Regions from separate parts of the Homo sapiens genome. Here all the other regions are linked to region 1. Evidence: fine-mapped QTL for protein levels in blood plasma. A gene starts in region 1. Each other region holds a variant in brackets. All regions are shown on one strand. Distances are from middle to middle.

What was found. PIP is the chance, under the fine-mapping model, that this variant and not a neighbour inherited with it causes the effect. Protein levels are from antibody-based Olink assays in UK Biobank. Linkage for the fine-mapping came from a reference panel and not from the study's own genotypes, which makes the PIPs less certain.
Region 2: its variant is fine-mapped to the plasma level of the SLITRK2 protein (UK Biobank, PIP above 0.99).
Region 3: its variant is fine-mapped to the plasma level of the SLITRK2 protein (UK Biobank, PIP 0.92).
Region 4: its variant is fine-mapped to the plasma level of the SLITRK2 protein (UK Biobank, PIP 0.98).

Annotation. Positions count from the first base shown.
Region 1 is chrX:145,815,680-145,818,333 of GRCh38, reverse strand. It overlaps SLITRK2 (SLIT and NTRK like family member 2), which reads right to left and starts at 505. Exons shown (of 5, transcript NM_032539.5): 1 at 308-505.
Region 2 is chrX:145,646,161-145,648,848 of GRCh38, reverse strand. No RefSeq gene overlaps it. Among named protein-coding and RNA genes, the nearest start is that of SLITRK2, 170 kb to the left of the region's middle. The variant C/T (reference allele first, on the strand shown) is at 1,119.
Region 3 is chrX:146,264,952-146,267,639 of GRCh38, reverse strand. No RefSeq gene overlaps it. Among named protein-coding and RNA genes, the nearest start is that of MIR891A, 240 kb to the right of the region's middle. The variant G/T (reference allele first, on the strand shown) is at 1,314.
Region 4 is chrX:145,838,257-145,840,944 of GRCh38, reverse strand. No RefSeq gene overlaps it. Among named protein-coding and RNA genes, the nearest start is that of SLITRK2, 22 kb to the right of the region's middle. The variant G/A (reference allele first, on the strand shown) is at 1,443.

The DNA.
Region 1 (2,654 bases):
GCACTGCAGGCCGACCGGAGGCTTCTAGCTCGCGCCGGGTGCGTGGGCCCTCCCTGGCCGCCTGTGCCACCCCGCTGCGCGAGGCGCGGAGCCCGACCACGCCCGCGCGGACGGTCCCGGGGTGAGGAATCTCCAGTGGGGATTGAGGGTAGAGGGCGGCCGCCAGCGAGCTGCCCTCCGCGGATGGCGCCCAGCCTCCCCACGCTGGTGCCCCTCGCAAGGAGAGGTGGCCGGGAAAGGCAACGGACTGAGGAAAGCCGGCTCACTGGCCGCGTCGCCACCGCGTCCCTGAGTGCTCAGAACTTACCGAGCGAGCGCGCCGCCCAGATCTTTTCCCGGAGGCGCCCGCAGCATCTGCGACTCGGGGAGGCAAAGGAGCCGGCACCGCCTCGGACTGGCGCAGCCCAGGAGCGAGAGCACCGCGGGGAGCGCGGGCGGCGCCCCCAGGGCAGGCAGATCCCCACCGAGCAGCTAGCCAACGGGCAACGCTTCTTGCAGGAAGGAGGGAGGGAGGCGAGAGGGAGGAGGGAAGTAAAGCGGGAGGGAGGAGAGGGGAAGAAGGGAGGGAGGAGGGAGGAGGGAGGGAGGAGGGAGGAGGGAGTGAGGAGGGAGGAGGGAGGGAGGAGGGAGGGAGGGATCGCGTCCCCCCTCTCCCTCACTTATCAATCACCCCACAGATCAAATATCCGGGCTGTGCACCCAGGACGGGGATGTAAGAGCCCACAAAGGAGCCGCTGCTCCATTTCTCTGACAAGCGCTGCGGAGCACTGCTCACGCCTCTCGGTCCCTCTTGCCTGGAACTCTGCCCAGCCCTTGCGGCTTCCACCCTGGGCTGCAGCTCGGGCTCGGTCAAGTGAAATAAGAATGGCACACGGTCGGTACCATGTCCAAGGGGAGACTAAGACTACTGGGTGGAAGTTAACGACAAGTGAAAGAGCAGTCAGCCATCCGAGCTGGACACCCTCCGGGACAGCTGCCTCCCCTAACTAGTAAGCGCCCAGTCTTTGGGAGTTCGCAGGCAGATATTTAAGAACCTCCTACGAGGATCGTAAACAAGGACTTTCAACATAAGATAGAGCTGAACTTGAGTTGTGCAAGTGTGTTAACAAAGCAAGCCCTTAGCAGCGTTCCAGTGCCCATTTTGATTCCCTTTATTCTTCACGACGACGTTGCCTGGATCTTCTAGAGCGTGATTTTTGCCATCCTCCCTTCCCTTTTCTCCTTTCTTCTTCCTCTTATTAGTAGTCCAGGTGGTTGTGATTCTATTAAAGGAAGGCGCTCTGTGAAAAGAGTCAGTGTAGTTCAAGAGGGAGGTGCGGTTTTTGCCAAGAGCATTGCGTTTCCCCTCAAGACTTGCTTTCTCTAGGGCCTCTCCTCTACTCTTCCAGAGTATTCGAGATAAAGTTGCAGTTTGATAAATTTATGCCAGGAGTAGGGAGTTCATTTGATGACACTAAGTCATTTTCCCCTCCATCCTGTAGGAGAACGTCATTAATTCAAGTCGTTGCCACCCCCTATCCTTTTCATGCCCGCTAGAGTCTGCAAAACCCCAAATCCTTCTTACTGTCGAAAAGCGTGATGGTGGAGAGCAGACGGGGAGGCGAGGAGAGAGGTGCAAAATTAGACGCAAAATTACCTCTCCAGCTAGTGGATCTGCATTGGAATTTGTCTGTTTCCATATTTCCCATGCCTTTCAACTCGTTCTCACAGCACTGACAACCACCTTTTTCTTGTCCTTCCCGTGGGAATCTTTTGTGCTTCTCCTGTCCTCTCTTCTTGGCTTTCTTTCATAATGGTTTTCTAAGGAGATTATGCTGGGCTTTTTAAAAAGAAAACTACTGGCAATCTTATATTATGAAGATGTACAGAGTTTGCTTTAATAATAGTCGGAAGAATTATAATCGTATCTTCGGAGTTGTAAGGGTCATTACTGTTCCTTTTATTTCATTCTTGAGAAAGCCTTTTTGAAATCTTCCTACCATTCAGATAAGCAACTTCGGAATAACATAGTTCTCACATAAGCACGTGGGCAGTGTATGTACGGTTATATATCCAGAAGCATTGCTCTTCTTTTTACAATATCTGTATTAGTGTAAACATCCAATGTGCTGTTTGCTACAGACTAAAAGCAGTGCACTGAGCACATCATATTATTAACTAAATGAGGTCAGTTAATACTGTTACTTCTGTCTTTACCGTATTTCTGACTGTGTCATCTTTTCATGTCGCTTTTAGTAGATGTTATAAACAACTGCAAAACACAGAGCTAAGAGGCCATTCCAATACAGAAATAATGAGACAGTCATGCTGAAAAACTCAGACAGTTTACTAAGAAGGGTGATGTGTCTGTAGCCAAAGGGAACATACAAAATAAGCAAAAACTTCTATACAGAGTAGAGAAGGAACATGGCATTAATGATGAAAAGTGATACTTTATTTAGATCCAGTAGTAACATGTAATAGATGGCATGCATCAATTTTAATTAGCCTTGTAAGCAAGTCTAACCTGTTCACCAGCCTTCGAAAAGCATTTAGCAGCCTGCCTTTCCACATGGGACCACACTGATAGTAAGACAAAATTAAAAAGAGCAGACTTTTCTTTTTGTCAGCATAAAATTTTCAAGTAGGTGGATAGCTGTGCTTTGAATGCACAG
Region 2 (2,688 bases), 170 kb after region 1:
GTGTCATTATATAGAGTCTGTAGTTCATCCCAGATGCACAAGAAATATTCTTTATACATATTCATATTCAGTGAGATAAAGCTTATGTTTTACCCAAATAAGTGCAAAGTCCCCAAAATTAACTTCCAATCATTTTTCTATACATTGAAACATTTGTCTTTTGTTCATGATTGTAATATAGAATTCAGCTTATTCTGAATCCTTTAGGCTGTATCCCACCATGGTACTAAAATCTCCACCCTCAACTGCTCTGGTAATTAAAATAGCATTAACTGTTTTAGATAACTTAGAATTATATTAAACATATAATTTCTGAAGCCCTTTTCCAGTGTGTATAAGTTCCCACCTAAATGTGTATCCATTTGTAGCACTGTATTACAACAGAATTTGTTTTTTTCGGAGAGATACTTTGTTTCTGAACAACAGAATTCTAAAAGACAGGTATTATACAAGGCGCAAATAGATTTTGGGATTTTTTAAATCTCGAGATAATTAGTTGCCTTTGATTAAGAGAAGTTTATGTTTGTGTACATCAGTCAATCAGTCCATGAAATCTATTTATTTCCTACTGCAAAATTTTTTTCAGCAAACAGTATCTATGAAAACATGAAAGTTTCCATGTAGCTGAAAATCATCACCCCATCGATTCTTGCCCCTTTCACCATTAGATTTTATTTTTTGCCATGAGAACTCTCTGTTAAATATGTCTTTTAGAGAGAGGTTGTGCAGTGCACCTCTAGACAGGATTTTATCCTGGCACCAGATTCACAAAGGCCTCCCCTTAACTTCTGGGCTGTTGATGGGGTCTTATGCATTTAGGCTCACCTCCGTCTCAGAGCTCCTCCCTGCACATTGCCTTTTCCATTCTGTGTAACACTGATAAAGTAATGCACCCCAGCCTCTTCGTCAGTTGCCACATATGCATATACACACCAACCATACTCATACAAAATATGTGCTGGTATGTTAAAGTTCACAAATTTGACTGGAGTGGAAGGGCACAGAGGAGTGGTGTACCTTTCAGCAACAGAAAAAAAAGTCAAATTCAACATTTTGGCATGCCTGATTGTATTAGTTTTTTATCGTTGCTATAGCAAACTGACACAAGCTTAGTGGTT[C/T]AAAACAAAACAGATTTTTTACAGCCCTTGAGGTCAGAAAGAAATCTCACTAACATCAAAGTGTCAGCACGTCTGGTTTCTTCTGGAGGCTGCAGAGAAGAATGTGTTTACTTGCCTTTGTCAGCTTCTAGAGATGGGATCATGGATCATTTCTCTATATTCAGAGAATCGCTCAGACTTCTGCTTCCATTATTCCATCTGCTTTTTCTTGCTTTGATCTTCTGGCTTCTCTCCTATTAGGATCCTTGCTATTACATTGGGCTCACCATATAATTAAAGATAATCTCCATGCTCAAGATCCTCGATTTAATCACATCTGAAAGGTCTCTTTTGCCATGTACTGGGCATTAGGTTGTGTGCATCGTGGGTGGAGATCATTTAATCTACCAAGAACAGAGATAACAACATATAAAAACTTTCTTTTCCTTCCTACCATCAGGGAAATTTTACTGCAATTTACATAGTGCCTCAGTCTCATACATCTTAATAGCTCCTCTATTCTCTCCTCCCCCCCCACCCCTCTGTCAGTTTTTCTCTTCACCATGTTTCTCCTAGATTTCTCCAGGTAACTTCAAACTTGTCCTACTTCTTATATATAGCCATTCAACTCTGTTTTACTATTACAAGCTAACTCTAATTCAGGTCTACCTTCGTCCATCTGAAATTATCAAAGTTTAAGCAGAAAGGCAGAGTTTTTCATTTAACTGGAACCATTATCTCTAATGAATGAATGTAGAAGGAAAAAAATACCCTTATATTATGTACAGCTTTGGCCCTAAGACCTAGAGAACTCCTCCCTATTATAGTCAACTGAGCTGGATATTATTTGAATTGTGAAAAGTTGCCTTTTCTTTTGTCTCAGACTATTTCTTGGTCTCTTACCCTTGGGCTTAGCCAAAGTGGGTATTTTTTTCTAAGGTCTGGGCGAGAGACTGCCAAAGTCAACCATCCTGTGTAGCTCATGTCTTTTAGAACTTTTAGAGCTTTGAGAATTCATCTCCTATTACAACGTCTTTCCAGAGTAGGAACAGAAGGCTTCTCACCTAGAGGCTACTGCAACATTATTTTACGACATTGAACAGATAGGAAGGACGGACCAGAGAAATAACAAAAAGGGAGTTGTTATTTCAGTGGTGTTCCCCAAATTGCACATGTTGAAGTCCTAACCCCTCGTATCTGAGAATGTTATCTTATTTGGGAGGAAGATCTTTGGAGATGTAATCGGATTAAGACAAGGCCATTATGATGAGTACTACATATAATAAGACTGATGTATAAAAGGGGAAGATGGCCGTGTGAAGATTTAGATAACAGAGGAAGAGATTGGAGGGACATTATACAAGCTAAAATATGCCAAGGATTGATGGCCACTACCACCAGAAGCCAAGAGGCAAGGAAGGATTCTACCATACAGGTTTCAGAGGGATCGTGGCCTTGACAATACCTTAATTTTGGATTTCTAGCTTTTGGAACTGTAAGACAGTAAATGTTGTGCTAAGCAACCCAATTCATGCATGGTACCTGCTATAGAAGTCCTAGGAAACAAATACAGGAGCCAAACACAGAAAAC
Region 3 (2,688 bases), 450 kb before region 1:
GTTGATTTGCAAATTTCCTTTCTAACATGTAGGCCCTTTAGAGGTAGAGACTGTGTCTTTTACCCTTTTTTCACCCAACCCTATACTCTTACCCAGACCAAGCACACAACTGGGAATAAAAGTCTATATTAACTGAAAGGAAAAACTGAACAGGAGGAATCTAAGATTACCACCATATGCGTTGTGGTTCACCCAAGGGCTTCATTCATTGGACATTTGCGGCTAAGTGTTGGTTTTGGGTAAACACGGCTTTAAATCAGCCCTGGTCTCAAGGAGTTTGCTAGGTAGTTAAAGAGCAACACGTATGTGCAGTGAACTGTTGTGAATCCTATGAAGGAGGTATAAGAAGCCCAATGGCAGGATTAAGGAAAATGTGATTTTCTCTCTTGGATTAGGGAGGACTGCATGGCAGAAGAGGTATACACCTAAAAATACAGTAGCCTGTATCTTTAAAACAGAAAATGAGTAATAAGTTTTTCTGTTGGTGCACACAGTGAGTTATGTTCAAATAAAAATGAACTAGGAAGGCAGTAGGGATTTGTCCTTACTTTTCACACTAGTAAGTACAGAATCCATAGGCGGATTTTTGATATAAAATTTTTTCAACTAATAAAATGTCAGCAATGCATTAAAAATTTTCAGAGAGGAGAACTATGAAATAAACATAATAAATCACTTTAGTGGTAATAAAACCAAGATGAATCAAAGCCCAGTGTCAACTTTGCAGCTATCTTTGAACAATCTCGTATCTTGAGAAGAAATGTCCACATAATTCCAAAACCTTATGGACGATAGCATTAAAATATTAAACAGTTTTTCATTTAAAAGCCTTGCCTGCCTCACGTTCTATAGCTTCTCAATTCAGAATGTGAGTTTTTGCCTGGAAGTTGCTTTATTTCTGCTGCAATATAATTTTAGAGAATTTTGTAACTGAATACTAATTCAGAAATCCTTCTTACATATTTTAATTCCCTAGATGGAGTTTAATTTCTTTGCTATGACTATTCAAGCTTTTTGAAATAAAGTAGCGTTTAAGGTGCACAGATTTATCCTTTCTTTGGGGCATCTTAAGGTCTACTGATATCAAATGCTATGTGTAAGTTACCCACAAGTTTAATGATTCCCACTTTTGTTAATGAAATGTTTGCACAGCTGCCACAGTGTGTACAGGAAGATTAAAACCTGCTGTCACTTTGTTAAGAGAAGCCTAGGGGAGACTGAACACAACTGGCCTGTGGATTAAGGAAACCTGGGAAAACCAAAACCGTCCATTAGTTTACAGGAGCTTCAACCTGGGAACTAGAAGCAGGAAA[G/T]AAGATGTACTGACCTTTCAAGTGAACTGAAATCAATTAACCCCAGTACCTGTCAACTTCTTGTGATTTGTGCTTATGCTGTGGTCACCTTTATCGCTCCTATGAATTCTTATCTGAAAACAAGTTCTTCATTGGTATAAGATGAAGTGAAATAGCTGAGCTGAGAAAGCAGTTTCCCATCAGAATGGCAAATGCAGTTCCTGTCAAGCAGGTTACAATCTTTGAAAAAAAAATTAAAATAAAATAAAATGAAAGGCTACCAAGATAGACCAGGTCAGTAATTTGACAAGTTGTGTCCTGGGTGTAAAACAAAGTAAAGGAAAATGTTCTAGGAGATATATGCAGATCCAGCAAGAGTGAATGCGCTGTTGCCCAATCTGTGTCAAGCACTGTGAACAGATTTGGGGCGGAATAGCTTGTCACTTACTTGAAGACGAAAAGAACTGCCTGTCTATAAGTCTGCAAACCCTTCTGAACTAATAACTTAAGGGCAGAGCTGAGGGTGTGCAGAAGGCAACAGGCACAGCAGGCTTGGAAGATTTCACATCTTGACTCTTTGTACTTGAATGAGTCTTTCACTGAGGAAACAGCATGCTTTAGAGAAGCAGACAGGGCAGCAGAGAGGACCAGAAAGTTTAAGGACTTGCCCAAGGCTGGTCAACTTGACCTTCACAATACGAGGGATGAGGGAAATCAACCTCTTTATCCAAACGACCAGACCAAGATTCCCTCAGCAAAGCACACTTCTCTTGGAACACTAGGGAGGCACGCTGGTCAAAGGAAGACCAGATGAAAGAATTAAAAAGAAACAAACAGTGCTATTGAAAAGAGAGCGCAATGGGTTGAGTTGATAAAAGAAAGTTTATTGATTTTAGAACAGTTACAGTTTATTTCAGCACCCAAACTCATTTGCAGAGGTACTGATGCACCCATGTGCAAACCTGAGTTGTCCTCACTGGGGGCTTGCCAGGCAGAGGGGAGGGTTTCTCCCCTCTCCTATCTCTTCTGACAATCTTTAAGTTGAGAAGCCACAGAAAGGTGGAATTTATTATTAGTACAAGAGGCTTGCGGCTTTTGGGGGTATTTCAGTGCAGCTGATGGCTGGTCTGTGTTTTGAGAGTTTCTGAATTGAAAGTTCTCTGCCCCATTTCCATCAAGAACCACTAAGTGAACAAGCCAGCTCTTCACTTCTTCACTTGTAAGTACTGCTATTGTTTGTCAACAGTATGTTCTAAGGTGAAGGGCAGTTTGCTTTCAGAAGTCATCAACTAAATTCTCCTGGCAGACAAGCAACAAGACAACAGATGGATGCTGCCGGAAAGTCGTGCTTCCCTCTCACTCCTCCCTCCCACCTGCTGCCAGCGCCTGCTGCTGT
Region 4 (2,688 bases), 23 kb before region 1:
TAGAGGTGGGGTTTCACCATGTTGCCCAGGCTGGTCTCGAACTCCCGAGCTCAGGCAATCAGCCTATCTCTGCATCCCACAGCGCTAGGCTTATAGGCGTGAGCCACTGCGCCTGGCCTTGAGTGCACTTTTGCTAGGTCTTCCTACCTAGAGTGAGTCAGTGGCTGCGGCCTCTGCCTTCTCAAGGCACTTGGTGGGTGCATCCTTCTTTCATGGCATTTACCACTCTGCATTAGCATTCGTTTTATGCATGACTTTCTGCACCACTTGATTGTGATCTCCTTGAGGATTAGAGCCAGAGTTTTGCATAGTGTTTAATAAATGTTTGTTACATGAATGAATGAATGAGTTAATGAGTTAATTATTTCCCCCGGCTATGGACCTTAGTCGGCATTCAAAACAGTCCTTCCCCATTTGGGAATCTCTTTATTTCCATATAGTATAATGAGGCCTCTTAAGTTTACCAGAGGTCTGGGAAAAGGAAATGTAATAAATGGGAAAGTATTTTTAAGTTGGCATGTGTGGGCATTAGCTTAAACCTTTTAAAGACAGACGTTACACTCCAGAAAACATTATGAATGAGAATGCTGGAAAAAAAAGTTTGTTGCATAATAGCTAGGAGTGAAAAGTTCTTTTCTTTGTTCCTGGGAGCAATAAAGTGATAACCCATATCTCAATCTCCTTCCCACACTTGCTCTTGTCAGTGTTTACCATATGAAAAAAAAAAAATCAAGTTATTTTATCCAGACTTCTGGTCACCTCCAAAAAAATGAGAAGGAATATATTTTCCTATTAATTGTGCTTGATTTTATAATTTTATGAAGATCAGGTGAGATTTACAAGTATCTCGGGGCAGCATGGTTTAAAAACAAAGTTACCAGCTGTAGGTAAAAAGTGTGTAATTAACAAAACTGGAAATTTCTTCATCTAAAATTTAATTCACAGGATCAATTTAGTATTATTTGAATGATGGCACAATTTTTAAAGAAGAATTGTGCATTTTTAAATCACGGCTAGTCTTAGGACCATTTTTGTTCAATGTATATGACAGATTTGGAGAGACTTTGATCTCATTACTACTTACAGAAAAAATAGCCTTTGGCAATATAAGATATGTTATGTTTTAAAAAAAGTCACACTGCAGTTTTTAATCTACCAGTTCTAAGGATAACTAAAAATAAACATAAGGAATTCTTGATTTGTGGTTTTAAGAATTAAGTCAGAGAGTTATGTACTTATTCACCAAATCAGCTTTTAAAGTTTATTTCCATAATCATTACTTGGTTTGATCGTTTGTAGCAATCATGAATGAAATTCAGTAACATTAAGGTTATTAGGGAAAGAAACAAAATAAAACAAAACAAATAATGCCAGAAGTTTTATAAGTCACAAGCTAGCTCTCTACTGTGATTCAGCAACTTTTAGCAATTGAATCTAAATCC[G/A]ATTCAAAGCTTTCTGAATCTGTAGCCATCAGACAAGCCCCAGAGCTCGATGAAAGAGGCTTCTGGTGCCTGAGTCCACCCTTCCATGCTTGAAGTAACAAAGCAGCCAACCCAGCGGTATAGCTTACCTCTCCTCCAGGCTCGAGGCCTCTGCACAACTTGGCACTATTGGGATTTTGTCAGATTAAGGAATCAATGGACAATGTGCTGAGTGCTTTTATTTAAACATAAATACATAAATAAATGTAAGCCCTAACCGTAGAGCCCAACATACAGTCTGAACTGCCTAAGTCACACCAGTGCTTACACAGCCCTTCAATAAACTGATGTGTTTTCAGGTCAAAAAGACCAAACCCGTAAATCAAGGCAATGCTGTCCCTATGACTTATTTGCATTCTGAGTGAGACACACGGTTTTAGGTCTTGTGAAAACAGAAGACTGATATGCAATCCAGTGGCTTAGGGTTCCAAACATGCCAGCTTCAAAGGCAGCTGTGAGGTTTGCCTGTGAACTCCTCCTATGTGTGGGACAAATGCTAGTTAGAAATCTTTGCATGGGCATTGGGGGAGTCTTTGCTTGTACAATAATGTCCTAATGTGACCTTTTTCATTTACTGTTTAAGGAGTTTTACTATGAGTAATTAAGAAAACTTATCCGGATGCCATTTAATAGAAATTCTCAAAGCCTTTTGAAACAATTTTACCTATAATAAAGCAATAGAATGAAACCAAAATATCCATCCTGTGAATCAGGATTCCATCATTTCTACACCTGCTGTAATGTATTGCGTCAACTTTTCCAAGTTCTCTTCCCCTCAAAATGCTCCTTTTTCTTTATGTTCTCAAATGAAGAAAACTCTGCTCCCTTCGTCGTCCTTCACTTTCGAGGCTGCTCTGCTGAGTAAAATCTGGCCCCACTTGAAGTTATTCTTGTGGCCACAGCATAGGTGACAGAGGTAAATGGAGAGTTTTTAAAAGTACACAATTCCTTTCTTACAAAGCCTCCTCAAATAATGCAAGCCATTTTTTACCTGCCCTAGAAAAACTAAATTGCTCTTCTTACATTGCAAAATCATCCAGCTACTCTCAACAGCTCTGCACTATTGAGATAACAACAGACTTTGCACAGAACAGAAAAGCTGCATTGCCCCCCACTGCTGCTGCTTTAGCACGGATGCTTTTACTTTTCTTAAACACACACACACACACATACGCAGTCTGAATTAGCTAAAAAGGTGAGTAAAACA